4 linked regions of the Homo sapiens genome follow. The protein of the gene in region 4 interacts with the protein of the main gene of each other region in a biochemical or structural test. Each region holds a gene or a part of one and is shown on either strand. Other genes may lie near its edges.

Evidence for each region.
Region 1: the proteins of EPS15 (region 4) and SGIP1 form a complex in vitro, tested with the Homo sapiens proteins (2 studies listed by BioGRID, with this or other methods).
Region 2: the proteins of EPS15 (region 4) and CORO7 form a complex in vitro, tested with the Homo sapiens proteins (one study listed by BioGRID).
Region 3: the proteins of EPS15 (region 4) and NUMB form a complex in vitro, tested with the Homo sapiens proteins (2 studies listed by BioGRID and IntAct, with this or other methods).

Annotation. Positions count from the first base shown.
Region 1 is NC_000001.11:66,529,283-66,537,620, reverse strand, and holds the start of SGIP1 (SH3-containing GRB2-like protein 3-interacting protein 1), read right to left. Parts: upstream 3,469-8,338; 5' UTR 3,263-3,468; coding exon 3,253-3,262; intron 1-3,252.
Region 2 is NC_000016.10:4,406,326-4,413,840, forward strand, and holds part of CORO7 (coronin-7), read right to left. Parts: intron 7,080-7,515; coding exon 6,983-7,079; intron 6,106-6,982; coding exon 6,031-6,105; intron 1,927-6,030; coding exon 1,856-1,926; intron 1,360-1,855; coding exon 1,176-1,359; intron 1-1,175. Other genes in the region: CORO7-PAM16 protein, read right to left, coding at 1,176-1,359, 1,856-1,926, 6,031-6,105, 6,983-7,079. UniProt on the Homo sapiens protein: F-actin regulator involved in anterograde Golgi to endosome transport: upon ubiquitination via 'Lys-33'-linked ubiquitin chains by the BCR(KLHL20) E3 ubiquitin ligase complex, interacts with EPS15 and localizes to the trans-Golgi network, where it promotes actin polymerization, thereby facilitating post-Golgi trafficking.
Region 3 is NC_000014.9:73,280,520-73,288,034, forward strand, and holds part of NUMB (protein numb homolog), read right to left. Parts: intron 6,796-7,515; coding exon 6,591-6,795; intron 3,856-6,590; coding exon 3,562-3,855; intron 1,987-3,561; coding exon 1,840-1,986; intron 1-1,839. UniProt on the Homo sapiens protein: Regulates clathrin-mediated receptor endocytosis. Plays a role in the process of neurogenesis.
Region 4 is NC_000001.11:51,509,199-51,516,713, forward strand, and holds part of EPS15 (epidermal growth factor receptor substrate 15), read right to left. Parts: intron 1-7,515. UniProt on the Homo sapiens protein: Involved in cell growth regulation. May be involved in the regulation of mitogenic signals and control of cell proliferation. Involved in the internalization of ligand-inducible receptors of the receptor tyrosine kinase (RTK) type, in particular EGFR.

The sequences.
Region 1 (8,338 bases), about 15 Mb from region 4:
ACTTATCTTTCTAGTATAGCACCTAAGAGCCTGAATATGGAACTAAAAACGCAAAACGCCTTCAGTTGGGCCTACGTGAACAAGGAAAGTACTTTCTAGACACCCTCACAAATAGACAGATAGCCCAAGAAACTCTGACTTAGTTCCAGTTATCTTAGAAAGGATAGCTAAAGAATGCCATTTTCAAACTTTAATAATAATATATCAAAAAATAGTCCTTGAATAGTTGCCCTAACCACATAGACTTCATTGTAAGCTTAGCCAATATGTACACTCCATAGTTAATAATTCCCTTTGCTCATCATCTTTCCTTTCATATTTATACTACAGAAGGCTCCAGATCATGTGGCTTTCTTTAGAAAAGAAACAACTCAATGCCAACCACTGCCAAAAGATAAAGTATGCAGGAAGCAGCAAATCAAGTCCCCTAAAATATGTTTTTTAATTAAAATATGTTAAAAGAACCATGGAGCCACAAACCACTAATCACCTGCTTGTGGTCCCTGGGGAATTATTTCGTTGACTTCCACAAAATTAGGATCACTGAGGAGGTAGTAACATTTATCATCTATGATTGGATGGATTTCCAATAGGCATTGAATGAATGGAGCCTATATCCTGTTCCACACAAACAAAACGTAGTTTACTATGACCCATTCTGCTGAATATTTGTTTACTCTTGCTTTACACAAAGTAGAGAAGTGCCTTTGAAAAGTTGCCATGGCCATGCTTTTTCTGAGCAGCAGACTAAAACACTTTAGCAATATAGAAATGTACAGCCACACGAGTGCAAATATATGTTTTCTTCCTTTCCAGAAATGTGTTTGGGTGGATGACTCTGTGTGTGTGTGAGACACACTAGTTCAGAAGAAATATGATTTTAACTAGATGTTTGGTAGCACATTCTCAGAGTCCACTAATGTTTCAACGAAGAGCTGCCATGACAAATTTGGGGTGCCTTTTATGAGGTTCCTTATCTTTCCAAGGTTATTGTGGTAGATGTACAGAGGCTGGCAATCTCTAGAGATGAGTTAAGTTGAAATAATAATTATATACCACACCTTCAGAATAAGAGCAATTCAGAGGTGAAATTCTGCCATGCAATACCAGAAACATGAATGTATATTGCCAAAAAGACTGTCAACTAAGTTGGAAGGCAACTGATAGCAAATTGATTTTTGGTTAAACTCCTATTTGCCTTTCTAAGGTCACCGAACTATTAAGATAATAAGGCTTAAAAACATTTAAGTAGGAGCTATGGGTAGAAATAAATGTTAATTTCATTTAGCTATTTAAGCCAGTGGGAACACCTGTCCAATTTCTCTTGCAAAAGATCTGGTGAAAGACAACTGTATCCATAGTATAATTCATACTAATTCATACCAGTGCTAAGATAACATTGTTCATTAGATAAATTTGGCAAACCCAGAGCAATAGTGCTAATTCAGCTCCAGCACAAGTCTTTGTTGCAGTTCTCATTTTGGTTTAGGCAGCCTGGATAAGCTTATCACAGAGCTTTGAACTGACATTCTTGGATGGCACAATAGACCATATTACCAGGAGAATCATTCATGAGCATCAAAAAACGTTACAACCTTCAAAGAAGATACTTTAGTGCCATGGTTTGCAAGGCAAGAAGTGAAAAGAAAGAGCATCCAATTCTCTATGCAACACTGAAATCTAATCAGAATGTGTGCAGATGCATTTTTAAGAAAGCTATATGAAGTTGAGCTGGAGAAATACAGTACCTCTACAGGCAAGATATTTTTTCTGAAGAAGATAATCCACATGAGCTTTTAATTGAAAAGTGCATAAATAACACTCTGTCTTGCCTTGTTATTCAAAGATTAAATCAATTTTGAATTAATGAAAATGATTTAATCTGAGAGTGTTAGCAATCTCAATTTATTTAGGCCTGGATTTAAAGGGCTAGCTTGAGAGCCTTTTGCAAACAAGACTCAGCTCCATAACAAAATCATACCCAACCTCTCTTTTAAGGCTATCTTCTAAAATCTGTGGGTTTTGACTCTAGAATTCTTCACTCCCCCAAATCACATTAACAATGTTTGACATGATGACAGGGAGAGCAAAAAGAATTCATTTCTGCCAAATAAGTACAGGCTACACTGCTGTTTTTATGAAACCTTCCTCCTCTTATTCCATTTTGGTAAATTTCTAAGGAATAGTTAAAATCCGTAGGACAAACCTTGGCTTAAGAGGTGGCCTCTCTGCCATTTTCATGGCTGATTTGAGACCCATTATGCACTCAATTCTGCATTGTGAAATCCAGGCTGGGGACAAATTTCTGCCTGTCATCTTAGGAAAGGCCAGGAGTTTTGCACCATCCTATAGTGTGAAAACAGAAAATCAAAGCCTGCATAGAGCTGCTTGCTTCTTTCCTGATCAGCTTGCTGCTTTTTGGAGACAATCTTGGCTGTCACAGTGTCAGACTGGGAAGGGTAATTTAGCAGAATAAAATATAGTTTAAATAGCATCTCTCCAGGGAAAGTTCCTCCTTACACTCAATATTGAATATGCGAAAAGATCATCAGCAAATAATCATTTGATACTTGGCTAAAATCCATTGGACAGGGAAAGCATTTAGGGAGCACAAAATTCTTTTTTAACCTGATAAGACCCCGAATCAGGAGGCAAGAGGCCCGGATATTTTCCTTATATTTTTCATTCTGTTGCAATGACATTCTCATACAACTACAGTTTATGGACCAAATTTGCTGCCCTCCCCATCCCAATAATATGATGTAAACTGCAGAGATAAAAATACCTTATGAGAATTTTTACAATTTTAAACAGTTCACTGAAAATGTCTGTATGGATAACTCTGTTAATGACCTCTCCTGTCTAATGTCAATTTCAGAAAACAAGTTTCCATTGTAAATGTTTAATCAGTGTAGTCCCAGGAACCCAGAACAGAAAACCTTATCTTCTCGCCCAACTTATTTGCTCTGCAAGCTCTTTCCTAGCTCCATCTCAGCTCCCTGCAAACACTTTAGGCTTTTCTCTCTCAAAGGAGCTGGGAGCTCTGTAGGTTCTGAGCTAGGCAGCAGCCCTGTGGTTTGATTCCATTAGTCTGAGCCCAGATCCACTGCAAGCAAACTGCAGCATTTCTGCTTGCAAAACATTGGCAACCAGGTTCTAGAACCGCCACATACACTGGCTGCACATATTCTTTAATGCTGTTCTGCCCAAACCTTGCCTGAAGCCAGTCAACCATAGCAGAAAGCATCCTACCTTCCATCATGGTGGCAGAATTGCATTCCTTAATTTCCAAGGAGTCTGAAAAAACACAGGAGGATACGATTCCAGGTCCCAGCTAAGTCCTCACCACGCCGCTGCTGAGGTCTATTCCGTCCGCTGTCAAAGCCAAAGGAGATAAGTGTTAAGCCAAAAGACAGGCCATGGATGCTGCTGGTGCTTCTTCACCTACAGGCAGGCTACCAAGAAGATGCTGAGAGAAAGGGAGAGGAACGGCAAGCTGGCCGAGCTGCACCGCCTGCGCTGCCTCGGCCAATCCCTTCAGCTTTGGACCGCGTCACATGGTAGCCAGCCTGCATCTCCTGACACAATACCCCCGGAGAGCACACAGAACCTATTTCCCGTCCCCATTCCCCTCCACCCCCATCGCCTCCCGCTTGTCACCAAATACACAGCCCCTTCCCCACCTGGTGACGCACTTCCCCCGCCCCTCCTCGTCGTCTCCTTAAGCTTACAGAAGCGGCTGGGTGCCCGAGATTAGTTATCAAGGGCTGCCACCTTAACAGGGGACTCTGGCGTGAAAGCAGCACCTAAGTGGCTCGCTGCGGAGGGGGTTCTTTTCTTTTTCTTTCTTTCTTTCTTTTTTTGTTTTTTTAAGAAAAACTTAATAATTCCGTGCAGCCGGAAATCTTAGCAACACACTTCTAAGCTCCCATTCCGGTGTCCTTTTACCCTGAAGGAATTCCAAATGTCAGTGTCTGTGGCCTCCGTGCACATCTGTGCGTCTCTCTCTCTCTCCGTCTCTCTTTCTCCCCTCCCATCCTTCATTCAAGAGAGAAAAATCAATCCGACTGACGTCACATCATAAACATCCCCAAAAGGATGATGCAGAAGAAATTTCACCCCAGCTGCCTTCGTGAGAGCCAGGGAATTAATTGCGCATGACATGCTGAAGGGCTGGGAACTGTCATTAAAACAAAGAAACAAAAGAACCCACCCGAGTGGGGCTCTGGAATCAAACTGGCAACGCTCGAGATCGTTTCTGGGGCGGGAGGCTGGAAAGGGGAGCAGGCAGGGAGCGGAAGCCTGAGCCCGACCAAAGACAGCTGTGCACGCCGGCTCCCTCCCACTCCAACCTGGGCTCGCCGTCCGGGCTACAGACGGGACCCTGCGGGGCGCCCTTCGACGACCGAGTTCGAGTCCCGCCGCCACCGCGTCCTCCCCGCCGAGCGCACACGGGAGCGGCCTCGCTTCCCCAGGTGGGGAGCTTTTCTCGCAACCGACTGGGGCTGCAGCTGCCAACTGCAGTCTCTGTAGGAAACAAACTTTCTCCTAAATGACACGTTTCTCCGCGACGCGCCTCCTGCATCTGGAGTCGCCTTCAAGCCTATTCATTCACCCAAGTGGAAACCTGGAGGGAGGCAGTTGTGCCTGGTTGTGGCGGAGCCCAGGGTTTTGAAGCTGCCAGGAATGGGATCTGGGGGCTGTGTAGTTGCCTAAGTGGGAAGTTGTGTCACTGGGCCCGGTTGGGTTCAGTCTGTCACCTGACTGCTCTCCAGAGACCATGGAGCCTTTCAGAAGGGCCCAGCCCTGGGGGATCTACGACCCTTGGTTCCCTTCAAGAAAGCTCAGACAGCGAAGGAAGAAAAGGGCAGGGCAGCCTATGAGAGAGAGAAGGCAGAGAAAAAGGAAAGGAGATGGGAGGAAAGGGAACGCCTTCTTTAGAACTCAGGAAAAACAACATCAGAAGTGGGCATTTCTCCCTGTATAATCTCACAGTATGACCAGGAGAAAAGCTGTTACAATAGAGAGCAATTGTGAGCATCCAATGAAAATGTACTCAAAATAACTGGAAGAAGATGCATGGTATGATCAGGGTTGAGCCTGTAATGTATTATTAATCATTTCTATTAGCAATATACTCATGAACTTTTTCTATTGCTCAGCCCTGGACATGGCCTAGCTCTTTCTACCAAAGCAAATATGACGTACTGGTGACTGACTGAAGTAGCATATTAATAGTTGAAAAGCAAAACACAGCTCCTTAGCAATTTAGAAGTTTTGAAAAACCCATTGTTCTCCCTAAGGACACATACTTCAGTGGCCTCTAAATTTTAAAATGAAATTCTTCAGGGAGATACAAATACTTGTGACTTTTTTCTTATGTCTCTAAGACAGTTAAATTTTAAAAGGGGAATGAATTCCTAAGTAAAACCTGCCTTGAGTACAACTTACACTGCTCTGAAAACTGGAGGGGTATTATTGCAAAAAGGATTGATTTGTGTGTGTGTGTGTGCATGTGTGTGTGTGTTTAGCAAATGTTTTGTAATGATTAAGAACATTGATGGGTATTCGTGTCAAATAGATGGGCACCAAGTTTTGTTTGTGCCACATAATGAGCTCTGTGACTCTGAGCAATTTATGTAATTCTCTGTGCCTCACAGTTTTCTTATCCTGAAATGGAGAGAATAATAATGCCAAGTTAATTGAGCTATAAATGGTAATAATAACAAACCTGTATTAATGGCTTACTATGTGCCAGACAGTATTCAAATACTCTGCTAGTAAATTACTTAGCATTTTGTCTGGAGCATAATAAGACCTGCATGTTAGCTTTTTAGTATTAGTATTATTACTACCAAAGGGCTGGCAGATGCATCAAAGAAGTTTGCAGCCAACTGGGAGTTGTACCAAATGCACAGAGAACAAGTTAGTGAAAGACCAGGTGATGCATCCAAAGATGTAACATGTTGGAGATTTCTGAAAGGCTGCTAAGTAGGAAATCAAAATCTAATGAGGTTAATTAGGAAAGACTTTTTTTTTTTTTTTACAGAGGTGAAATTTCAGAGTTCAGAACTTAATTGGAATGGGCTTGAAGTGGTAGTTCTAAAGAATATAGGGAGTTGTAAGTAAGAAAAAAGTATCATGTAAAATCTGGAGGTGAGTGCAAGCACTGAGGTGCAGGAGTGGGGGCCATTGTTAGGATGTAAGGGAAAGGTGGAGAAACCCAGGCTGCCTGCCTTCTTCCTCCCAATGTAAGTTTTACAGTGTGTTAGAGCAATCCTCTCAGATAGGTTTGGTATGGGTACACTTCAAGTTTTTTTAGACTTGCAGCAACTATCTAGAGACAGCAAGTCAATGGAAAGATTCTTTTGGTCAATGACTATTTATAGGAAAAGCAGAAGTTTGTAGATATTGTCAGAAAGGGATGTGTATTTCAAGGTGGTAAAGCTAATCCCAAAGGCTAAACTTCACCGCAACTTCATCAGTTGTGTGTATTTTATCCTTTAAAAAGAAGATGCTATTACCAATAGCATATCCAATAGAACATCCAATGAATGAAGTTCTGTTTCAATAAAATTTGCTCAAATATGTAATCAAAAGAGATTATCCTAATTGTGGTGTTTTCTCATAGGTTTTTTTCTTTTTATTTTCTTCTTCTTCTTTTTTTTTTTTTTTTTTTTTTTTTTTGAGACAGTCTCACTCTGTTGCCCAGGCTGTAGTGCAGTGGTGAGATCTTGGCTCATTACAGCCTCCACCTCCTGGGTTCAAGCTATTCTCCTGCCTCAGCCAACTGAGTAGCTGGGATTACAGTCATGCCCCACCATGTCCACCTGATTTTTTTTTTTTTTTTTTAGTAGAAAGGGGTTTCACCATGTTGGCCAGGCTGGTCTCGGTCTCCCGACCTCAAGTGATCCACTAGCCTCGGCCTCCCAAAGTGCTGGGATTACAGGTGTGGGTCACCATGCCTGGCCTCTCATAGGTTTTTGAAAAAAAAATTGTTTTGATCAAGAACAAAGACAATACTTTAGGTTGTGGTTCAAATTTTATCACTTCATCGTATAATTTTTGCTTGCCAGCAAGGGCAAAGGAGAATATCTAGCCTCCAAAACCATGGAATACTTTTTGCAATTCTGAAATGAAAGTCAAATGGTATATGGAAAAGATTGGGTAAATAACTGACTTGCATCAAAGTGCAAGAATTGCTCAGGAGTTCAGCTCAGGATGTGAATGTCAACCCAGATCATACCAGGCTCTGATATGGTACTTATGACTGGTCCAAGACCAAAAACTAAATTGCTGAAGTCACTAGACATTCAACATTTTTTCTAAAATAACATTTGTATGGTAGTAATGGCTGATTACATAGTGTTTCAGAATGAAATCTTATTATATTCCTACTATAAAAGCTGAGCTTCTTCACTATCTCCCAATTTTAGGTTGAAGGGGAAATTTGTTTATATTTTAGAAAGAGAAAGAAGACAATGAGAATTGAGTCACAAAGAAAGGAGGAAAGAAAATTAGCATTAAAATATGGATCCAGATTTGTGTATGTGTTTGTGTATCTCCAAGGTAGTGCTCTTAACATGACAATTGACTCTGCCCCTTTTGCTATCCCCACTGAGGTAATTCAGTGAATGTAGATGGAAAAATATGTTGCCCAAGTCCTGGAAATTGGCAAGACTGAAAAATTGGAATTCCATGAGATGATATAGATGAAAAAGAGATACATATATTTGTGTGTGTGTGGGTTCCCATAGTTACTCTATTCCTGGCTGAAATAAAAGAACTCCAACTTCAACTAACATGGGCAAAAATGGAATTTATTGAGGTAGCTCATAGAATTATAGCAAGAACTGAACAGCTGAGGGAAAGCAAGAACCAGGACAATCCAGGAAATTTTGTTACCTGAACCAAGTACTCAGAACTCTCTCTGTCTCTTCCAGCATGTCATCTCCTTTTCTCTTACTAATTTTTCTCCACATGATCAGGCCTGACCATTAGCATCCTCTAAGCTCACCTCTTCACAGATTTACTAGGCTAGATCTCCTTCAAAAAACTTCCAGGGAAGGACTGTGGTTGACCTGGCTTGGATCATTGTTCACTTTTCAAACCAGTCACTGGGGGCCATGTTGATGAGTTCTCATGATAGATTTTTTTTAAACCAAAACTTACATTGGACTGTCATATGCTGACTACTGTGCCTATGTATGTGTGTGTGTGTATATATATATATGTGTATATATATGTGTGTATATATATGTGTATATATATATGTGTATATATATATGTGTATATATATGTGTGTATATATGTGTGTATATATATGTGTATATATATG
Region 2 (7,515 bases), on a different chromosome or scaffold from region 4:
CACTCTGTTGCCCAGGCTGGAATGCAGTGGTGTGATCATAGCTAACTGCAGCTTTCACCTCCTGGGTTCAAGTAATCCTCCCACCTCAGCCTCTTGAGTACCTGGGACACAGACAGGCACACGCCACCACGCCTGGCTGATTTTTTAATTTTTTGTAGAGATTGTGTCTCACTATGTTGCTCAGACTAATTCTCAAAATATTGGGCTCAAGCGATCCTCCCATTTTGGCATCCCAAAGTGCTGGGATTACAGGTGTGCGCCACGACGCCCATCCAAGAAGGTTTTTTTTTGGTTTTTTTGTTTTTTGTTTTTTGTTTTGAGATGGAGTCTTGCTCTTGTCCCCCAGGGTGGAGTGCAATGGCACGATCTCTCTTCGCTCTCCATAGCCACTGCAACCTCTGCCTCCTGGGTTCAGGCAATTCTCCTGCCTCAGCCTCCTGAGTAGCTGGGATTACAGGCACCCGCCACCACACCCAGCTAAGTTTTTGTATTTTTAGTAGAGACGCGGTTTCACTATGTTGGCCAGGCTAGTCTCGAACTCCTGACCTCGTGATCCACCCGCCTTGGCCTCCCAAAGTGCTGGGATTACAGGCGTGAGCCACCGCGCCCGGCCAAAGTTATTTTTTATTTTTATTTTTTTGAGACGGCATCTCACTCTGTCACCCAGGCTGGAGCGCAGTGGTGCAATCTCGGCTCACTGCAACCTCTGCCTCCTGGGTTGGAGCAATACTCTTGCCGCAGCCTTCTGAGTAGCTGGGATTACAGGTGTGTGCCACCACGCCCGGCTAATTTTTGTATATTTAGTAGAGACGGGGTTTTGCCATGTTGGCCAGGCTGGTCTTGAACTCCTGACCTCAGGTGATCCACCTACCTCGGCCTCCCAGAGTGTTGGGATTACAGGCATGAGCCACCGCGCCCGGCCATTATTTTTTTAAATGGAGAAAAACAACAGAAAAAAAAAAAAACAGGTAAGAGGATGAAACTGATGGCTACGGAGAGCAAAGAGAGATGGGGTGTTTATTACAGCCTCATAGAATCTTAAGACTTTTATACTATGTAAGTGTAAAACTTTGATATCTGTTTTTAAATTTATGTGACTAAACATGCCAACAAAGAAACGGAGTGCTGTCCAGAGTGGGGCTGCCCTGGGAAGGGCAGGCCAGGGTGGCCTGTACCTGTCAGGGGCTGCTGCTTGGCTGCGTCCCAGACCTTCACAGTGGTGCCTGCTGCGCTCACCAGAATGCCGTCAGAGGTGGGGTGGAACTGCAGTACCTCCACTGGGAGGTCCTCGGGGCCCAGCACCACCCCGGGTGCTGAGGGCAGGGCCTGGCCAGGCCCTGGCAGTCGCCAGAGTTTTACCTGCAAGAAAGACCAAGTCCGTGAGCACAGGGCTGAGGGCCTCACTGCCTTGAGTCAGCTGCCGTGACCCCAGTGAGGTCCCGTGTTGGAACTAGGCTGCTCCAGGAGACCACACACCTTGGCCTTGGGAGGAGCGCCCACCCGCCTCAGCTTGCTTGGGCCAGGGGCTGCATACCCCACATCCGAGAAAGGAGGGAGGGAATCTCAGCTCCTAGACCACACGGTGTGGTCCCAGAGTTGGGGAAGTGGCTCTACTGTTTCTGGCAGCATCCCCACCTGCTGTCCTCGGGCTCCAGGTCAGGTCAGAGCCACGGCTCCAAGCAAGCCCTTGGGAGCCAGTGTGGGACCAGGAATTCAGACCAGCCCCGCAGCCCTGGGGAGTGGGGTGGGGCTGGACTGGGAGGCAGCAGAGCCCTGTGGGGATGGCGCTGGGGCTCAGAAGGCCCTGGACTACGGGCTGGGACATAGAGCAGCTCTTCCAACTGGCTCCACTCACCGTCCTGTCAGCCGAGCCTGTGGCCAGGAGGAAGTCATCAAAGGGCGAGAAGTCCAAGTCGGTGACTAGGTCTGTGGGAGAGGAATGGCTGAACCCACCGGAATGTCCTGTTTCCAACCCAGTATGAAGCAAAGCCCAGGGCTTCCGAGGTGACACTTTTGTGTGCACACAGAAACAGGCTACAAGTCTACAAGGGCCCTCTGGACACCATGGGGGCAAATGCCACAGGCCCCTCCTGCGACATACGTCCCCGAGGGCCCTGCTGACCCAGGGTGGCCAAGGGCTCTGGCATCAGGAGGTTGGCAGGAAATGGGCAGGAAGCCGCTTGAGTCACCAGGCACCTGCAGGAACGCAGCTGCCCAGCCCGACCCCTCCTAGGGCAGCACAGCCCACTGCTCCTTCAGTCGTGGAAGGTCCCCAGGACTCAACTAAGAAATTGCTTTTTGGTTAAGCAAGCCGGAGTTGGCTTTAGTTCTTTGCAACCAAAGAACCTGAATGGTGGCCGGGCATGGTGGCTCATGCCTGTAATACCAATACTTTGGGAAGCCAAGGTGGGCAGATCACTTGGGCTCAAGAGTTCAAGACCAGCCTGGGCAACACGGTGAAACCCCGTCTCTACAAAAAATATAAAAATTAGTTGGGTGTGGTGGCGGGCGCCTATAGTCCCAGCTACTCAGGAGGCTGAGGCAGGAGAATTGCTTGAACTCAGGAGGCAGAAGTTGGAGTGAGCAGAGATCACACCACTGCATTCCAGCCTGGGCAGCAGAGCCAGACCTTGTCTCAAAAATTAAATACTAAGAACTTGAACGGCTCAGCTCCAGAGGTGGGGAGGGGTAGGTGGGGTGCACAGAGTGAGCCAGACCCCAGAGGGAAATGCGGTGGGTGGTTGGGGAGGTAGAGACTAGGCATGGAGGGTGGCGGGGTTTCGGGGTGTGAACAGGACGAGAGGTATCACCAGAGCTGGGAGCACAGCGACCACCTGCTGCTGTCTGCCTCCCAACAGGGCTGAGCAGGACTGTCTTCCTCCCGGCCTCAGGAGACAGGGAAAAGATAGGACGGACGTGCACAGGCACATCTTGGGATAGCCCTGGCCTGGAATCCCAGCTGGCAGGACCACAACATTCCTGGGCCTAAAGCCACAGAACCCCTGCTGCCCTCACTCTGGGGTGTGCTTGCTGGGCCCTGCAGGGCAAAGCAGGTCCCTGGGCAGGTGTAGCAGCTGGCACAGGCGGGCTGGCATCTCAGGCGTGAATGAGATGTGATGACATAAGCAATCTGAGTGCTCAGCATGTGCTGGCACCACAGATGCCCAGGGGTTGACACGCAGGGACCTCACTGAATCCTCATAAGGATGCAGCAGGTGGCACTGCAGCAGCATCCCCTACTGGAGGATGAGGACGCCAAAACCCAGAGAGGGTGAGTAACTGCCCCAAGTCACGCGGCTAAGAGACAGGGCCAGCTTCAGAACCTGTGCTGCTCAGCATGACATGCTGCTGCCTTTTCCCACTGGAGCGGGCCCCAGCTGCCGCCCCACAGCCTGGACATCAGAAACGCACCCAGAAGTTGCTCACCCTCTGCTCCCCTGGCTGCTGGGCGGAAGGGCAAGAGTGGCCCTGAGCTGAGAGGCTGAAGGGGCCTCTGAAGGCAGGGCAACAGCCAGAGCCCCACCTGGCCATTTCTCCCGACACCGGCACCTCTGAGGCAGAAGGGCACCTGGTGCCTCTAGGGCAGGTTCCAGGGGTGCTGGAGCTCACCTTCCCATGAGCAGTTTCCCGGCAGGGCTGCTCATGCAGGCAAGGCTCTGAACAGTTGCAGCCACAGTGAGGCTATGGACTTGCCTACAGGACCCTGGTCCAGCTTCTACTTGAAGAGCCCTAGTAGCAGAGGGCTCACCACCTTGCAAGCATCACCAACTTGGGCTAGCTCCCTCATAGATAAAAAGCATCAAAAAGTCAAACATGAAGCCAGGTACATTGGCTCATGCCTATAATCTCAGCACTTTGGGAGGCCAAGGTGGGAAGATCACTTGAGGCTAGGAGTTCAGGACCAGCCTGGGCAACACAGCAAAACCCCATCTCCACAAAACATAAAAAAATCAGCTGGGCATGGTGGTGTGTGCCTATAGTCCCAGCTACTAGGGAGGCTGAGGATAGACGATCCCTTGAGCCCAGGAGTTCAAGACTGCAGTGAACTATGATTGCACCACCACACTCCAGCCTGGATGACAGAGACAGAGACCCTGTCTCTAAAAAGACAAACCCAAACACAGGCTCCTATAGACCTGGGTTCTGATTCTGGCCCTGCCATAACAATGGGTAAGTTCCTAACCTTGCAGGAGTCTCAGTTTTCATAGCTATAAAATGGGTTGTTTTAAAACCTACTTCAAAGAGATCTGAGATTAGATGAGAACAGACTTGTTATACAAGCTGCCACACACATGTATCTCTAAAACAACATGCTACGTGAAAGATGCCAGATTCCAAAGACCGTGTATTGTGCGATTCCATTTGCGTGAGATGCGCAAAAGAGGCCCCTCTATAGAGGAGAGGCCAGTAAACGTCTCCTGCGAAGGGCAAGGCGGTAAATATTCTAGGATTTCAGGGCTCAACAGTCTCGGTCACAACTCAACTCTGCAGTTGTTGCAAGAAAGCAACCACAGACTATACATCAATGAATGGGCGTGGCAGCGTTCCAATAAAACTATTTACAAAAACAGGCAGCCAGCTGGATCTGGCCGTGACAGTAGTTTGCAGACCTCTGCCACAGAGGCAGGAAGCAGATCAGCTGTTGCCTGAGGCTGTGGTATTGGAGGTGGAAATGGATTAACTGCAAAGGGGCATGCGGGATCTTTTGGGGATGATGGAAACGTTCCAAAACTGGATGGCAGTGCACATGACTCGGTCACTTTAATAAGAATCATCAGGCTCTTTACTTAAAACAGGTAATCTGACGGGGCCCCAAAACTTTGGGAGGCCAAGGCGGGAGGATAGCTCGAGGCCAGGAGTTCAAGACCAGGCTGGGCAACATAACAAGACCCCATTTTACAAAAAATTTTTAAAAATTAGCTGGAGGGGTGGTGGCATAAACCTGTGGTCCTGACAACTTGGGAGGCTGAGGTGGAAGAATTGCTTGAGCCCAGGAGGTCAAGGCTACAGTGAGCCATGATTATGCCACTGCACTCCAGCCTGAGTGACAGAGCAAGACCCTGTCACAAAAACAAACAAAAAACAGGTAACGTTGGCTGGGCCTGGTGGATCACACCTGTAATGCCAGTACTTTGGGAGGTTGACTTGGGAGGATTGCTTGAGCCCAGAAGTTTGAGACCAGCCCGGGCAATATAGCAAGACCTCGTCTCTATATACTTTTTAAAAATTTTTTAAAAAAGTTTAGATGAGAAAACTCAGCTAACGTACTTAGTACAGAGAGCAATCTCCATAAATCTTTACTATTGTTATTAACCACCATCATTATCATATCAGAACCCCTCCACGACCCTGCACACCCAGCCTGAGGACCAGGCATCAACTGCCTTCCCTCACCCGAAGGCCTCCAAACAAGCAGCCAGAAATGCAGGCCAGAGAGACTGGGCCCGCGGCCGCTGCAGCTGGACAGTGAGAGGCGAGGCCAGCTGGGCTGCTCTGCCTCCATCTGAGGCGAGCAAACTGTTCCCTCGAGGCGGACAGCCTGCCAGGCAGGCTGCTGGACGCCCCCAGAAGCAGCTGCGGCACACAAAAGGTCTCTTTGTGAGGGCCCATCTCCACCCCTGCAGCCCAACACAGCGACCTCCTTGGAGGGCCCCGAGCGGCTGGGCTGGGGAGGATGCCTGGTGGAGAGGGGACTCCAGCAGAAGACGGAGGGCTCAGAGCCATCCAACGTGGAGTCCTCGGCAGGGACAGGGAGCCAGCATCAGCCTGGAGCCTGGGGCGGCCACTGCACACCCCGCTCCATCCAGCTCACAACCGGAGCACACAGCTTCCCTCCTCACTGCCCAGGCCGGAATTCTACACCAGGAGGAAGCCTTCTGAGCCCCACTGTCTCTCAGAGAGTGCACAGACAGGGCGACAGGAGGGACCTGGCAAGCCATGCGGCAGTGGGACCAGGTGAGGATGAATTTCTGGCCCTGGAGAGGGAGGTGCAAGTTTCAGGCTTCACCCACTAGTCAGACACCCACTCACCTGAATGGCAGCCCAGGTGGGCCACGCGTCGCTTGTCCTCTCCTTGGCCTTGCAGAGGCACAATGCCCAGTACACCTGTTAAACAAACACGGGGACTCTGACTTCAGGCCCCACAGGGCCACCCACCTCCTTGCCCAGGGATCCCAGAGATGAAATCCAGCAGCTCAGCCTCGGACCTTCCCAGAGCCTCTACCAATCACAAGATCATATCCTCTGCACGTAGCAATGGCCTGTGGGTAGGTTCTGGCCCCATGCATGAGCCATCCATGCCTCAGATGGATACAGAAGACATTAGGCGAGAGGTCCTCTCTTTTTAACACGGGTCATACGAAAGGGGCGTGGGGCTTTCGTATGGGGCTTGCAGCTACCGTCAGCCACTTTTCGCACTTTTACTTGAGAAAGAAGCCAACACCCAAGGTGGCAGAGCTGAGAGACCCAGAGAGGTCAGGGCCGACAGTACATGTGAGCCTTTGGGCACCGATCTGCCTGAAGCCCCTGATCTCTTAGTTAGGCTGAAACATTATCCATTTTTTGCTTAAGCCAGCTTGAGGGTCTGAGTTACCACTAGCAATCAAGAGAGTGCCAACCAACACACGGGCTTTTCAAGCCTTTCTGTTCCTACTGTCCCCAGCCATCCAGGGCCCAAAGATGAGGAGCAGGGAGCACAGAGGGACAGCTGGAAATACAAGCGTCAGTCCCCTCCCAGCCCTCCTGGCCATGCTCTTGCCTGTGGTTTGTACACACATATGTCCTAATCAAAAGCAATCAGATTACTGCGCCTGGACCAGTTTGTGGGGGTCTAAGGTCTGGCATGGGGCTCACCTCTGAGCCCCCCAAAGCAGTTCCGTTCCAAGTCTCCAAATACACCAAGCCTGCCCCTGCTCCCCACCCCATCTATGGTGACGATGACCGAATATGTGAGCAAATATCCACACTCATGGCCATTCCCTACCAGGACGGTCGGAGTTGAAGGCGATCAAGCTGCAGCTTGATTTGATGTGGTTCCTGCATGAAGGGGCGGTTCCTGCTCGAATGTCACTGATCCAGGACTGAAAATCAAGAGTAAAGAAGTATGTGGTGAGAGCCAGGGTTCCACCTCCATGCATGCCTAAAGCAAGAGGTGGGGCATAATCTGGGGAACTCTAGCTCACAGCTGCACCATTCGAGATGCATTCTTTTATTTACTTTTTTTTTCTTTTTGAGACAGGGTCTCACTCTGTCACCCAGGCTAGAGTGCAGTGGCGCGATCTTGGATCACTGCAATCTCTGCCTCTTGGGTTCAAGTGATCCTCCTGCCTCAGCCTCCTGAGTAGCTGGGATTACAGGCGCCCAACACCAAGCCCAGCTAATTTTTGTATTGTTAGTAGAGATGGGGTTTCACCATGTTGGCCAGGCTGGTCTCGAACTCCTGGCCTCAAGTGATCTGCCTGCCTTGGTCTCCCAAAGTGCTGGGATTACAGGCATGAGCCTCCGCCCCCAGCCGTG
Region 3 (7,515 bases), on a different chromosome or scaffold from region 4:
ATCTGCTAACCCTTGTTCCTTTTACTCCAGATACCTATATTAGTTTCTTCTCCTTAGCCCAGCTCTCAATAACATTCAGTTTGGTGTAGACAAGCACCCTCCCCTGACCTACAATATAATTATATCCTTTTTAGGACTGGACAGCCATGCCTATGGTGTTGGTACTATTTTTTTTTTTTTTTTTTTTTTTTGAGATGGGGTCTCGCTCTTGTCACCCAGGCTGGAGTGCAATGGTGTGATCTCGGCTCACTGCAACCTCCGGCTCCCAGGTTCAAGCAATTCTCCTGCCTCAGCCTCCCGAGTAGCTGAGATTATAGGTGCCTGCCACCATGCCCGGCTAACTTTTGTATTTTTAGTAGAGACGAGGTTTCACCATGTTGGCTAGGCTGGTCTCGAACTCCTGACCTCTGGTGATCCGCCTGCCTCAGCCTCCCTGTTGGGATTACAGATGTGAGCCACCGCACCCAGCCGGTGTTGGTACTGTTTACCTAGAGTTTGTCTAAAAGACTGCCTTTGCTTTTTTGGTGGCAAAAAAATTTTTTTTTTCACCTAGAAACTGGGAGCCCTCTAAAGGCAGGGAAAGGAAACTGAAATATTCAATTTTGCACACTTAGTGCCTTGTAGGCTGGCAGAATCAGCAGAATGTAACGGGTACTATATTCAGGAGGACCTGAGTTTAAATCCTGTCTGTAAGATTTGGGCAATTTACTTATCCTCTCTGAGCCTCTTTTTTTTTTTTCATCTGTAACACCTACCTCACAGGCTTGTTGTGGGGATTAAATGAAATAATGCATGAATACCTACCACAATGTGGCAAGCAATGTGTAAGTGCTCAATAAATGGTGCCTATTATTACCGGTATTATAAATGTTTGTTAGATGACATGAAAAGTCATTTGGTACACATGACTATGAAGGTTTATTAAAAAGAAAAAGAAAAAGACCCTTGGAGAAAAAGTGTGTAGTTCTTCCAGTAGAAGCAGGGCACTATCTCTGGAGTAAAACTTCCGCTGAGCTCTCTTTCAAAAGAAATGGAGAAACAGCAATTATAGCAGCTCAAATTCTACAAGTCTGTAACTTAAGTTACATAAATTCTTTGCTGACCTCTGAGTCAATATCCACTATTTAGTCAGTATCTCTGAAAACAACTTTTAACTCTTCAATGCCACAAAGGCAAATTTTAAGACACTTGTTATAGAAGATGAACTAAAGAGCTCAAAGGAGTGCCTTTTTCTTTATTAGCCTCTTTGACAGGGCAGAGACTAGGTGAGTCCAGGGCTTCTCAACATTGGCACCACTGACATTTTGGGCTGGATAATCCTTTGTTGTGGGTGCTGTCGTCTACACTGAAGGATGTTTAGTGGCATTCTTGGCATCTAACCACAAGCCAGTAACACCCCCAACCCCCAACTTGTAAAGCCCCAAAATGTCTCCAGACAGTGAAAGACAAACTTTGCCCCAGTTGAGAACCACTACACTAAAGAAAGCATAACCTTTGAACCAATTCTGATGACTACTGCTTTTGGGAAACTGGATGGGTATGCTGATCCTTAACAGTCAAGTGGGAAATAAGGCAGTAGGTTGGGACTACAGAAATTCCTTATAGAATGGGGTGAAAGATGGGCACATGCAGAATGACAAACACAGACATCTTAGAAAACAGGAAGGGCACAAAGACATCGTCGAATGGAGAAATCAATGAATCTAAGACATCAAATAGAGAAATTAATGGGTCTGACCAGGCCTTGGGAAGCTCAGGATGCCAACTTACAGTTAGTGAGCAGTGTACTAAAAGTACTGGTTGTAAAGAGAACAGCTGAGCAGGTCAGAGGGCACCAACCTTGGAAGGTAGGAGATTGTGGTGCCACCACTGTCACTGGTTTGGTCATCGGAGCAGATGAGAAGGGGTCCTCAGGTGTGCTGAAGGCATTGGTGATCTGTGAGCACAGGGAGCTGATGCTCTCTGCCTCCCCTTCTACTTCTGGCACTGCAAGGCAAACAGAAAATGGCTCCAGACAGAAAAATGGAATAATCCTGAAATTTGACAGTATGATGCAAGCTGGCACTTTATACTGTATCTCCTGCTTATGTAAGAAAAGGCTCAATTAACTGTATGGCAGGGCTACAAAACCAGTTTCAAAAAATTTACTGGCCACAATTTCATTGGCTTTTCAGATGGGAAAGTATAAAATGTCAACAATTAATGTACTAAGGCACATCTTCCTCCCTTACAAATCCCCAAATTTCTTCATTTCTTCTTCTTATAACACTGTTGAGGATCTGTCCTTTTTGTGCCAAGATGTTCAGCTAGCCAGATCTTTGTAGAAGACATTTGCAACCTGTATGCCTTCCAACGTGTTCTCAAGACTGTGATCTGAATTAGGTTCTGGAGCCTTTAGTAATTCTGTCAGGAAAATGGGTTCAAGTCTGGGCACTAGTGGATGCTTAGTGCTTTTCTCTGTAACAAACTATGACAATGTCATCAATCTCATTTTTCTCCAAAGTCTCCAGTACTAAGCATATGATCTATGATAACATGAAAAAGTGAGCAGAGGTGTAGGACGCTAGGGCCTTTATTCTTAATACTGACTCTAGGATACTTCTGTATCACTGAGGAAGCTAATTATGTGTGCTAAAGCTCTGTTTGCTCATCTGTAAAGAGAATAATAGTTTTTATTCCCTGTCTGCCCTAGAAGGAGACTGAACTGAAATGAGGTACCTCAGCTGAGAACTGAAAAGACCCTCCGTAATCATCTAGTCCAACTATTCTTTAGGCCTAGTTTCATCTGTCAGATGAACTTAACTCTCTGTACTTTTATACCATCAGTAGGAATGGCCTATTGAGACAGTTTCCTCATATTTTGTTATAGCAATGGCTTGACATGTCTCAGAGGGAAGTAAAATAGAGCCCAACAAAAGCACTGACCAGATCTAATACTTTAGCTACAGATTTTATGACGAGGATAGACCTATAGAGGCTGGCATAGCTGTACAGAGGCCACACAAAGGCCTGTGAGACGGTTCTGAAAGGTAATGAATACTTGTGAACAAGTCCACTGTCTGTGATGAACAACAGATCTTAGATGTACACGAAAGACCTGTCTAGAGTTTCCTCCTTATGGAGCCAACCAGCCAGAAGGACAATGAGCACATATCCATTTCTTCTGCTGGTAATGCTATGTGTTTCTAAGGCCTCTTTAATTAATTCCCTGCTGGGTCCCAATGGCAGAATAAGAATAGAAACTTGAGACCCTTGATGTTTGGGAGCAGGTTGGCTGAAAGGCAGTGAATGCACTTACATCAGGACAAACCACAAATCTTATGGCTTAGGCTAGAAATTCCACAATGGCTCTGCTGCCTGTTTGTTGAAGAGAAATTATGGATTCACATCCCCCTCCACGGACCTTAGTTTTCCCACTATGGGAAATGACAAAAGATACAACTATCAACGAACCTCAGGGAAAGAGGAATGCCTAGTTTAATGGGATTAGTGTCTTCATGGGAAGTGATGAGAATGCTTCAGTGCTCGAGTACCCAGTGAGTCAGGTAGATGCTACATTACCTGCATTTTTAATGGGGAAATCAGTCTTCCTCTGCATAGTGGAAGGCAACTCATTGATGCGTAGGGATAGTTGGCGTTTAAAGGGTGACATCTTCTGGCTAAGAGCAGGAAAACCTCGGAAAGAGCCTTGGCGAGCAAGCTGTTCAATTGGAGCATGCCGGCGTGGGATGGCATGAGGATTGTTCATCTCCAGAGAGGTCGTGGCATCAGAAGTAGGAGAGGTGGGAGAGGATGGGGATGGGGCAGTGTTGCCAGGGGCAACTGATGAACCAACGACTATCTTATCTGTTTCAGCTCAAGAAAATAAAGAGAATGAAGACCTTAGCAATGTCTTCAAATAATTTGCGTTTAGAGAGCTGACAAATTCGAAAGCCCTCTAGGTCCTTTTACCCATTTCCTTCCCAGTGTCTCTTAAAACATAAGTTAGAAGCAGGGTTCGGATCCATTTTTCAGACAGATAAAAGGCTTAGTAATGTACTATATGTCACAAAGCATATCTACTAAGACAGAAATGTTAGATCTTTTATTCTCATTCAGTGATTTATAAATTAAGACTGTGAAAAAGATCTTAAAAACTCAGTTCCTATGAATTCCTAATATGTAGTCTTTTAAAGAATGATTCATGATTTTCAATGCTTGTGTGTTAGGGGAGGAGAACTTTGGGAACTGTAGCATTAGAAAGGTCTAAATAAGCATAAGCTTAACCATATATCTTTGATTAGGTGTCAAAGAATGTCATATATAACAGTCTTTATTTATTTATTTATTTATTTATTTATTGTTTGAGATGCAGTTTTGCTCTTTTTGTCCAGGCTGGAGTGCAATGGCACCATCTTGGCTCACTGCAACCTCCACCTCCCAGGTTCAAGTGATTCTCCTGCCTCAGACTCCCAAGTAGCTGGGATTACAGGTGCACACCACCACGCCCAACTCATTTGGTATTTTTAATACACACGAGGTTTTACCATTGTTGGCCAGGCTGGTCATGAACTCCTGACCTCAGGTGATCCACCTGCCTCCGCCTCTCAAGGTGCTGGGATTACAGGTATGAGCCACCACGCCCGACCTAAAGCAGTCTTTAAATCATGCATTTGTGGTTCATTTGAATAAAAGCATGCAGTAGTAAAATTTTGAACTGGATTAAATTTGAGTAAATGTAAGACTGTGGGTACCAGTTGAGTCCCATTCTGATTGTGACAAATCTCAACCACCAACTCTCACAATCCTTTGTAGATCTTGGGACTCAATCTCTTTGCAGTTGTTGTGCATAACAATGAATATTATTTGGTGGTATTAAAGAACATGCTTAATTAGTGAATAGTCTGAAGACCACTAAAGCATATTAGATAACAGTAATACAGGTTAAATTTTCTAGTACAGATAGCATGATTTTTCCCCCCTTTGGCTTCCTGGTGCAAATATTTACAAGAAATGAAAAAAAATCACTATCAATAATTTCATTTCAAATAAAAATATGTATGCTTTTTTTTTGGAGGGGGCTTAAGAATTAGAGCTGTTTGGGTCAGTATTAGTCAATGATGCTAACCAAAAGGGCTGGTTTAAGGTCAGGTGCGGTGGCTCACACCTGTAATCCCAGCACTTTGGGAGGCCAAGGCAGGCAGATCACCTGAGGTCAGGAGTTCAAGACCAGCCTGGCCAACATGGCGAAAGTCCATCTCTACTAAAAATACAAACATTAGCTGGGTGTGGTTGCATTCACCTGTAATCCCAGCTACTCAGGAGGCTGAGGCAGGAGAATCGCTTGAGCCCAGGAGGTGAAGGCGGCAGTCAGCGGAGACTGCGCCACTACATTCCAGCCTGGGCAACAGAACTACACTCTGTCTCAAAAAAAAAAAAAACACCGAAATCAAACCAAAACAACAACAACAAAAATGACTAGTTTAGAACTAAAAGGTTATAGTAAAAAAAATTATCATATATATATATTTGTTTGTTTTTAAGAGACAGGGTTTTGCTGTTACCCAGGCTGGAGGAGTGCAGTGGTATGATCACAGCTCACTGTAACCTTGTACTCCTGGGCTCCAGCAATCCTCTGGTCTCAGCCTCCCAAGCAGCTAGGATTACGGATGTGCACCACCAAATATGGCAATTTTTTTTTTTTTTTTTTTTTTTTTTTTTTTTTAAGGGATAGAGTCTATGTTGCACAGTCTGGTCACAAACTCCTGGCCTCAAGTGATGTTTCCTCCTCAGCCTCCTAAAGTATTGAGATTACAGCTGTAAGCCACTATACCTGGCCTCAAAATTATATTAATGTCTATTAGTTAACTTGAATTGTTTGTGCTTGTCTTGTTGGTTTTAACCCTACTTATATACAAGAATTCAAAAGTATTTTCAAGCCCTATCATTTAGTTGTAAAATATACCCAACTCACATTTATAGACTGCCAACTAACTTGAATGTTTGTACAGGCATTTCTGCTGTGATGCCATGTGTACCTAAATAAAACTCACACTCTATAAAATCACACACTAAATTAAATTAACAGGGCTATAGAAAAAAAGAGTTATAGGCTTACCTCTCAAAATCTATAGACTTTTGTGACTAGAAAGCACTAAAAAACAGCAATAATATCATATAAACAGTATTACTGTTAAATCTCTCTGCTAGCATCATAGTCCGTGGATGCTTTGCAGCCTTAAGCCCTGGGACCTCTGCTGCTTCCTTTAAGATGCAGGTACTTGATTCATTTGCTTCTCAAAGAGATCAGATACATCAGAATTAAAAAGGTATTTCAGGATGGGAGGAAGGGGGTAAGAGATGTCTCTGCAGCTTCTTCAACTGCACTCTGATTCCTCAGATAGCTTACTATAATGGAGTAAATATTTTTGAAGCCATTAAACTAGCCACTCTAAAGGAAGCGGTTTTTAAGATTTTCAACTTTGTTATAAGGTTTTATATTGCTAAGGGTTCTCTTTGATTATGAGAAAATTTACCCCTGGTAGCTTCAAAATAATACCTTGTTGGGAAAAACTGCATTCCATAAATACACACTGTAGAACAGATTGTACCTTTCTTGGCATCTTGCATTTGTTTCATGATCTCCTCTCTTTCTGCTTGTTCAGTGGCTGTTGTGACACGGAATGATCCTTCTCTTGTAAAAGTGGTCCGACTAGCATCAAAAGTAGCAGTCACTCCACATTCCTTCTCCCGCTTCTGCTTGCGCTCTAAACAGGCTGCAAAAGCACAGCCTACTGCATGGCTCAACCTTTCACCCTGTAAGAGCAGATTTTAAAAGCTTTTCAGAATTACACTACTAACAATTACATACAAATAAGTCTTTTGTTTTGTTTTGTTTTTGAGACAGAGTCTTACTGTTACCCAGGCTGGAGTGCAGTGGCGCAGTCTCTGCTCACTGCAACCTCTGCCTCCGGGCTCAAATACTTCTCGTGCCTCAGCCTCCTGAGTAGCTGGGACTACAATCACGCACCACCACACCTGGCTAATTTTTGTATTTTTAGTAGAGATGGGGTTTTGCTATGTTGGGCAGGCTGGTCTCCAACTCCTGGCCTCAAGTGGTCTACCCAATTCAGCCTCCCAAAGTGCTGGGATTACAGGCATGAGCCACCACACTCGGCCCAAATGTCTGTTTTTATGAAAGCAAGATGTTGCAAATTCCAGCTTAAAATTGTTTTAATAGATTAGTATGCCATATTAATTTAAATGAATAAATTTTCTAAGGTAGTGCTTATGATGGTTCAATTCACTGTTACAAGCCTTGGGGTAAAGTGATAACCAGCAACCTGTGCTTTTGTAAGCAGCCATGGAGAACTCTTTATCACTTAGGCTCTGTCATGTCAGCCCTGGCCAACAGCTTAGAAGACTCTATGCAAGGTTTCAAGCCTTGACATGCAAGCTTCTAGTTGCCCTTTGGGGAAGCAGTGGGAATATTTACCAGCCACTTCTAAGAAACTACTGGAAAGGCAAGGCAAATTT
Region 4 (7,515 bases):
ACAGAGGATCAACCATCAATACTGGAAGCACCTTTAATGCATATAATTTCATATTTTTTATATATGCATAATGCTATATCTATGTTGTACCTACAGAACAAAAGATGGAATGAAGTTATCAATAATCCTTAGTATAAATGATCCATCAAAATTCTAATTAAGTGCAACATTTCATAAAAATTAATGGCTCATATAACTAAAATCTATCAATTTACCTAAGACATTCTAACTTCAGAGCCCAAGATCTCTCTCATTATTTTATGCTAGTTCTCAAAAATGTTCATCTGAGGATCAGAAATCATTACAGCTAATGGTTCCAGGTTTTAGTCAATAAAAGTCTATTTTATAGGGAGTCTCTGATACATTTTATCTTTAGCAATACAATACTGTAGAAACTCCAAGTCCAAATAACCATGTCTGAGAGAATATTAGCTTAAAAGTAAATATTGGTATGATGTACACTAACCTAGACAAGCTTAGATTTTCATGAGCAATAAATCTGGAGGTTGCAAAATGAAAAACTACCTTCTACTATGTCTACAAAAACTTTCCACTATAACTTCGTGCAACAATCACTTTCTAGAGATGTGGTGTATGCAATGATAAGTTGATTTTCACATAGGAAGATGTAGTAGCCTACAACATATGTTCAGCTATAACCAAGGAATGGTACCACAATAAGCTCTGTCAGAGCCATTTTGCCCTTAAAAATGCAGACTCATTCAATCAATATCCGAGTTGCTTAGACTACTGGGTTACAATTCTGGCTCTACCACTTAGCAGCAGTTTGACCTTGAACAAATTACTTCACCTCTGTGTCCCAGTTTTTTATTTTGTTTTGTTTTTGTAAAACAGGGATATAAGGATTACCAAGTTGTAAAGAATACTGAAAGGTTCATCAGGTTGTAAAGATTATTGAAAATAGCACATGACACGTAAGTGTGCTCAGTAAGTATTATTGTTATTATCCCACTATTGACCTCCTCCCCAATACACACAAACACACGCACACACACACCACTGGATAATTTCTTTTACATAACAATAGAGGAATGTAAGATCACATGAATGTTCATTCTTATCCCAAAATTTGACTGAAATATCATCAATGACTATAGGAAGCAGCATAGCAAATGTACTTGGAGAACAGATGTGCCTGGGTTCAAGTCTCAACTCTCCCACTTAAAATACAACCGTGAGCAAGTAATACAGAAGATTAATGCCTACTTGTAGAAAGGCTATGAAGATTAAGTGAAATAATGTATGTAGATCATCTAAAAGTATTTAGTATTTATTAGGTGTTCTAGAAGCATCAGTCCTCTTCCTTCTCAACAGTGGCATAAGAATGTTTTCCTTCCAGGATCTCTGTATTGATACTTAGCCCACTAGATAGAACTGTTCCACAACTAAAAGAAGACCACACTAAGTTTCCAAACTACAGTGGAGCCGGAAGAGGGAGGAGATCACACTAAAAAAGGCACAGAAATCACACATAAAATTAAGTTCACAATTTCAGGTTGCCTTCTCATTTAAGTTTTTTAAGCTCAATATTTATGCACAAGGAGTCAATCATGGCTCATGGCAGGCTTAAGAATAAAAATATGAAGATAAACTCTTTCCCCTGTCCTCACCCCTAGAAAGTATATCTTGTATGTCCTAATGGACCACAGAAAGTATGTATCTAGGCCGGGCACGATGGCTCACGCCTGTAATCCCAAGCAATTTGGGAGGCTGAGGAGGGAGGATCACCTGAGGTCAGGAGTTCGAGACCAGCCTGGCCAACATGGTGAAACCCCGTCTCTACTAAAAACACAAAAATTAGCCAGGTGTGGCGGTGGGCGCCTATAATCCCAGCTACTTGGGAGGCTGAGGCAGGAGAATCATTTGAACTCGGGAGGCAGAGGTTACAGTGAGCCGAGATCACACCACTGCACTCCAGCCTGAGCGACAGAGCCAGACCTCCGCCTCAAAAAATAATAATAAATAAATAAGTATATATCTAAACCAGTGATTTGGCCGGGCGCAGTGGCTCACACTATAATCTCAATACTTTGGGAGGCCAAGGCAGGAGGATCACTTGAGGTCGGGAGATAGAGACCAGCCTGGAAAACATGGTGAAATCCATCTGTACTAAAAATACAAAAAAAATTAGCCAGGCGTGGTGATGCACGCCTGTAATCCCAGCTACTCGGGAGGCTGAGGCACGAGAATTGCTTGAACCCAGGGGTGGAGGTTGCAGTGAGCCAAGATCACACCACTGCACTCCAGCCTGGACGACAGAGCGAGACTCTCTCTCAAAAGTACTAAAACTTTAAAATAAAAATAAATAAATAAACCAGTGATTCTAAACCAGAGGCAATTTAATCCTCTAGGAAATATTTGTCAGTGTCTGGAGATATTTCTGATTGCTGCAACTGGTGAAGGTGTTACGTCTAATGGATAAGGATGCTGCAAAACACCCTACAATGCACAGAACAGCCTCCCACAACAAGAAATTCTCCAGCCCAAAATCTCAAAGTGCCAAGGCTGAGAAACCATGATCTAAAAAACTATAAAGTACTGTAATATAAACGTCTTCCTCCAAAAAATATGTTCTTATCCTAGCATTCTTGGTCAAATTTGTATTCTTATTGCAGATTTAGTAAGGAATAAGCAGTTTGATTATTTCAGATGAAAAACTCCTGGTACTGTTATATTCCCATTGTAATAATCCCCAGTTTAAAGGAGGGAGGAAGTGAGGCTTACTTTTCTTTGTATATTTTTACCACATAAAAACAAGTTTTAAAAAGAGCCCAACTTTTATTTTTTAATTGCACCTCTGATTCATTTGAAAGCCTTATTTATATCACAAAAATGAGTTTCTTCTACCTCATTTCTATCCTACTTTTGCACAAAATATTCAGAAGTTCACATTTATGTGATAGGAAAGCAGAGTATATGAGGCAGGGTACAAGGCCAGCTTTTAACAAATTGGGAAACTACAGGAGTAGCTAAAGAAAATAAGTCACCAGTTCATTTTGTAATCACAACATGCTTAAGAGGTCTCAATAATACCCAAGAAGTCTCAGTAGTTTATTTCTAATATGCAAATGAGTGCACTTAAGAGGTTAAGTAATTTGCCCAAGATCACAGAACTACTCAGGGGCAGAACAGGTGTGCTCTTGCAGTTATATTAGTCTGCCTCTGCTCCTGAAGTTTAAAAATCTAGATTTTGCAGAAGCTCTAAGAGAAAAGACTGACAAATTAAACATATAAAACAAATATTTCTACATAATCAAAAAATGCCAAAAACAAAAAAAAATTCAGAGAAAAAAATTTTGCAAAGGATTTTGCAAAGAAGGGCAAATTTCCTAAATATAAGAAGAGTTCTTACAAATCAGTGAGAAAGAAGACAAACAGCCCATCAAGAGAACAGGTAAAAGACTAAAGCAGTTTATAAAAAAAGAAATACAAATGGTTTCAAAGGAAAAAAAAATAAGTTCAGCCTTACCCATAAAGAAATAACAAACTAAAACAATGAAATTGTTTGAAATCTTTCTGATTACTGGACTGACAATAATATACATGTTGATCAAGCTGTGGAGGAAATGACACTCTCAAACATGTGTGCTGCTACAGTGTTTCTGAATGTAAATGAGCAATATCTTTTTTTTTTTTTTTTTTTTTTGGAGACAGGGTCTTAGCTCTGTCACCTAGGCTGGAGTGCAGTGGTGCAATTATAGCTCACTGTAACCTGCTAATCATAGCTCACCTGTAGCCTGCTAGGACTACGGGCACACACCACCATGCCCAGCTAATTAAAAAAAATTTTTTTTTTGTCCCAGATGGATTTCACTATGTTACCCAGGCCTTGAACTCTTGGCTTCAATCAATCCTTCCGCCTCAGCCTCCCAAAGCACTGGAATTATAGGCCTGAGCCACTATGCCTACCCCAAATTAGCAGTATCTATGCAGATTAAAAGTATCCTCTGGCCCAAAAATTACACCTACTAGAAATTAATCCATATGCTCACACATGTGCACAAAAACATGTAAAAGAGTATCCACTGCAGCATAGTTGTAACAAAAGATTGAAAACAAAATAAATGTCCAGCATTAGGTGGCCAGTAAAATAAATAACAGTAAGTTCACATATAGAAATACCCTGAGGTTTTGAAAACAATAAGGGAGATCTATATGTGATGTTATAGAGCAATCTCCTAAATCAGTTAAGCTAAAAATAATATAACAACAAACTGTGAAACAATAAACAGCTTACACAAAAGAATATACATATACAGTATACATATATATTTATTCGCATATACACAGACTATTACTGGAAATTCACACAAGAAACTGGCAAGAATGGCTGCCTCTGGGAAAGCAAATGAGGGCCTAAAGCAGAAAGAAGACTTCACTAGCATTGTATGAATTTTTTTAACCATGAATTTATATTGGTTTTTTAATTTACTAACTATAAAACCTAAGTCCCAAATTCTGAGCCTCAGTATCCTCCAATTTGAAATGATGATAATAATAGCTTAGTTCATAGGTTACGCTTTGTTAAGTTATAAAGCAGCACAAAAAATTATAAATTAGTCCTCTAACTGAATTGTCCAAATCAATTAATATAATTATTATCATTCCTCTAATCAATTTCTCTAAATGTTTAGGATGAAAACTAAGTGTAGACACAATCTTAGAACACAAAGCTTTACTTTACACGTAGTTATTGTGTATTCAATTTAAATGAATAAATTCTCAAAAATGCCATAGAGAAAAGCTAAATCAGTTGATTACAGAAGGAATACATTCTCACTGTTGAAAACAAGGTAGATAAAAACTACAACCATGCTACTATAAAATTTTAGTGTTTTTTTTCTTCCAGGCTTTCTTCTACGCATGCTTAACTGGGTTAGATCATTTGTCTAAATAAAAAAAGTTCACTTTACTGTAATACAGCATTCAATTTACAAGATTCCTCAGATTATTAAAAACACCTAATAAATATAATTAATGAAGGCATACCTTGTTGATTCAACTGCTTTAAAAATGAAACTCCAGCATATGAATTTGCCTAATGAACTCTGCCTGGAGTAACTTTTCGTTTATTATTTCTACCAGTTCTCCAACTAACCAGATCTCTCTCAGGCCATTTACTTGGTTTTGGTTTCCAGAGTACTGATTTTTTTTTTAAAAACTTTTATTTTAGGTTCAAGGGTACATGTGAAGGTTTATTACATCAGTGGACTTGTGTCATAGGTATTAAGCCCAGTACCCAATAGTTATCTTTTCTGCTCCCAATTTTATTAAGCCCCAAACTCACAAACAAGTATATAAAGTGCTTTTTGTAATTCCCTAAAGAACAAGTAAAATATCTTAGATTAGGCCTTTAAAATCACACTATTAGAGATTGCAGAGATTCTGAACTATGATTCGTTGCTAATGATACTCAATCTTTTTCTATTACACGTTAGTCTGTTACTAGCATTCTGTCTGCAAATAGAGTGAAAACAAAGGAATGCACTCTTAGATTATTCCTGAGAGACTTGCTATTGGATGAACTTGTTCCTAATTAATTTTAACTATGACAACCTCTCCCAAGTGCTGAACATTTCAAGCCATCTTTGAGAAGGGTTAGATATCTCTCTCAAGAGATTTCCTGAGTATATCGAACCATAATTATAGGCAATAAAGAAAAACATCATTAATGTGCCTTTCCCATTGTAGGAACTCAAATATCTGTCATGTTGAGAACAATATCACTTTTCTGCTTCTGAGAACATGTTGTCATTTTCAAACTAACCTGTATTTACTGTCATAATTGTTAAACCAGACTACTAAGATGATATGTTTATTAGCACTTGTACTGCGTACTTGTTTAAAAAATGAAACTGAAAATAAACACTACAAACTGTGAAATTATGGGAGATGTTTTCCTCTAATTTCCAAGTTTTCTGTAATACAGTTATATCACTCTTGTAATTTAACAAAAAAAGCATTAGAACTGTTGTTATACCATTTATATACTAGGATTTTTAAAATTAAGTCCCTACTTAAGGGCTTTTTTATTACTTTAAAAAAAAAAAAGAATCTGACAACATAGTGAGTGAGTCCCTGTCTCTACAAAAAAATTTTAAAAATTAGCTGGGCATGGCGATGCACACTTGTAGTCCCAGCTACTCAGGAGGCTGAAATGGGAGGATCCCTTGAGCCCACAAGGTTGAGGATGCAGTGAGCCTGATCATGCCACTGTACTCCAACATGGGTGACAGAGTGTGATCCTGTCTCAAAACAAAACAAAAAAAAAAAAAAATTCTTGCTAAACTAAAGCAAGAAAACCAGTATAAAGCTGAATTGCTAAAAGACTATTTTAAATATTCAAATCCTATCTCAGTAAAATAAAACCTTTATCATCAATAGCACTAACTTTGAACACACAATTGTATCATCCAAGATATTATCAAAGGCACTAGAGATTCAGAGGCAAAAACCATGGCTTATATCCTCAAGAGGCTTACTACTTAAGACAATGGCATATGCCGAAAAAAAAGAACAAAAAATGTAAGGGAGCGTTGGATAGGCCAAGCATCTAGTACATAGAGAAGAACAGTGAAATAGCTTTTGAAGTCCTACAGACCTTGGTTCAAATCGTAGATTCACCACTTACTAGCTTACTTACTAGCTTCTCTAATTTGTAAAACATATCGTTAGATTCTAAGTGTAGTAAAATTCCTGGCATATAGTAATTCCCAAAGGGAAGTTAACAGTATTATTATTATTAGGGATATGGGCGTTAGGGAGTAAAACTGACTATTGGAAACTTTTTTTTTTTAAGTATTACATGCTTTTTTTCTAATCTACCAACAGAAGCAAAAATCAAGATCTTTCTCCCTCAGGTTTTACTTCTCATTGACAAGAAGTAAACAGAACACCTAGTAAAGACAACTGAATTAGAAAACATTTAAGGCTGTAAAGCACTAAAGAACCCAGAGAAAGTCCACTAGGTCTATAAATCATAGAACACTGTCTATAAAACAGGATCTTAAAAGTTGGAAAGGTCCTTAGATCAGCTAATTCAAACTCCTCTAGCAGAAATAAGTTCCAGGTTTTGTCTCCAAGGTCAAAGAATTGTTAACTATTTTTGTTCATGAGTATATATATCCTCAGTACCTAGAGTAATTCCTAGCACATACTGAATGCTCAGCAAATGTTTGTTGAGTCTCTTTTAAAGTTAAGAAAACTGAGGCCTGGATATTTAACCCAAACCCATACAGTTAGCTGTGGCCAAAGCAGAACTGGAACTAACATTTTGGTACTCTAGCATTCTATCATCTCTAGAAGCTAGACTATAATAATTTAGATAATTTATTTTGGTGGCTGGGGAGTTGAAGGGTTGGTTGGCAAGCTTGGAAAAAGGAAGGAAGGCATAAGCTAAAACATTTTTCACATTTTTTCCCCAAACTCAGTTTTGCTTAATTGGTAAAGGCAAGAAATTATAAACACGATAATCCCAGTACAATGTCTAGTACA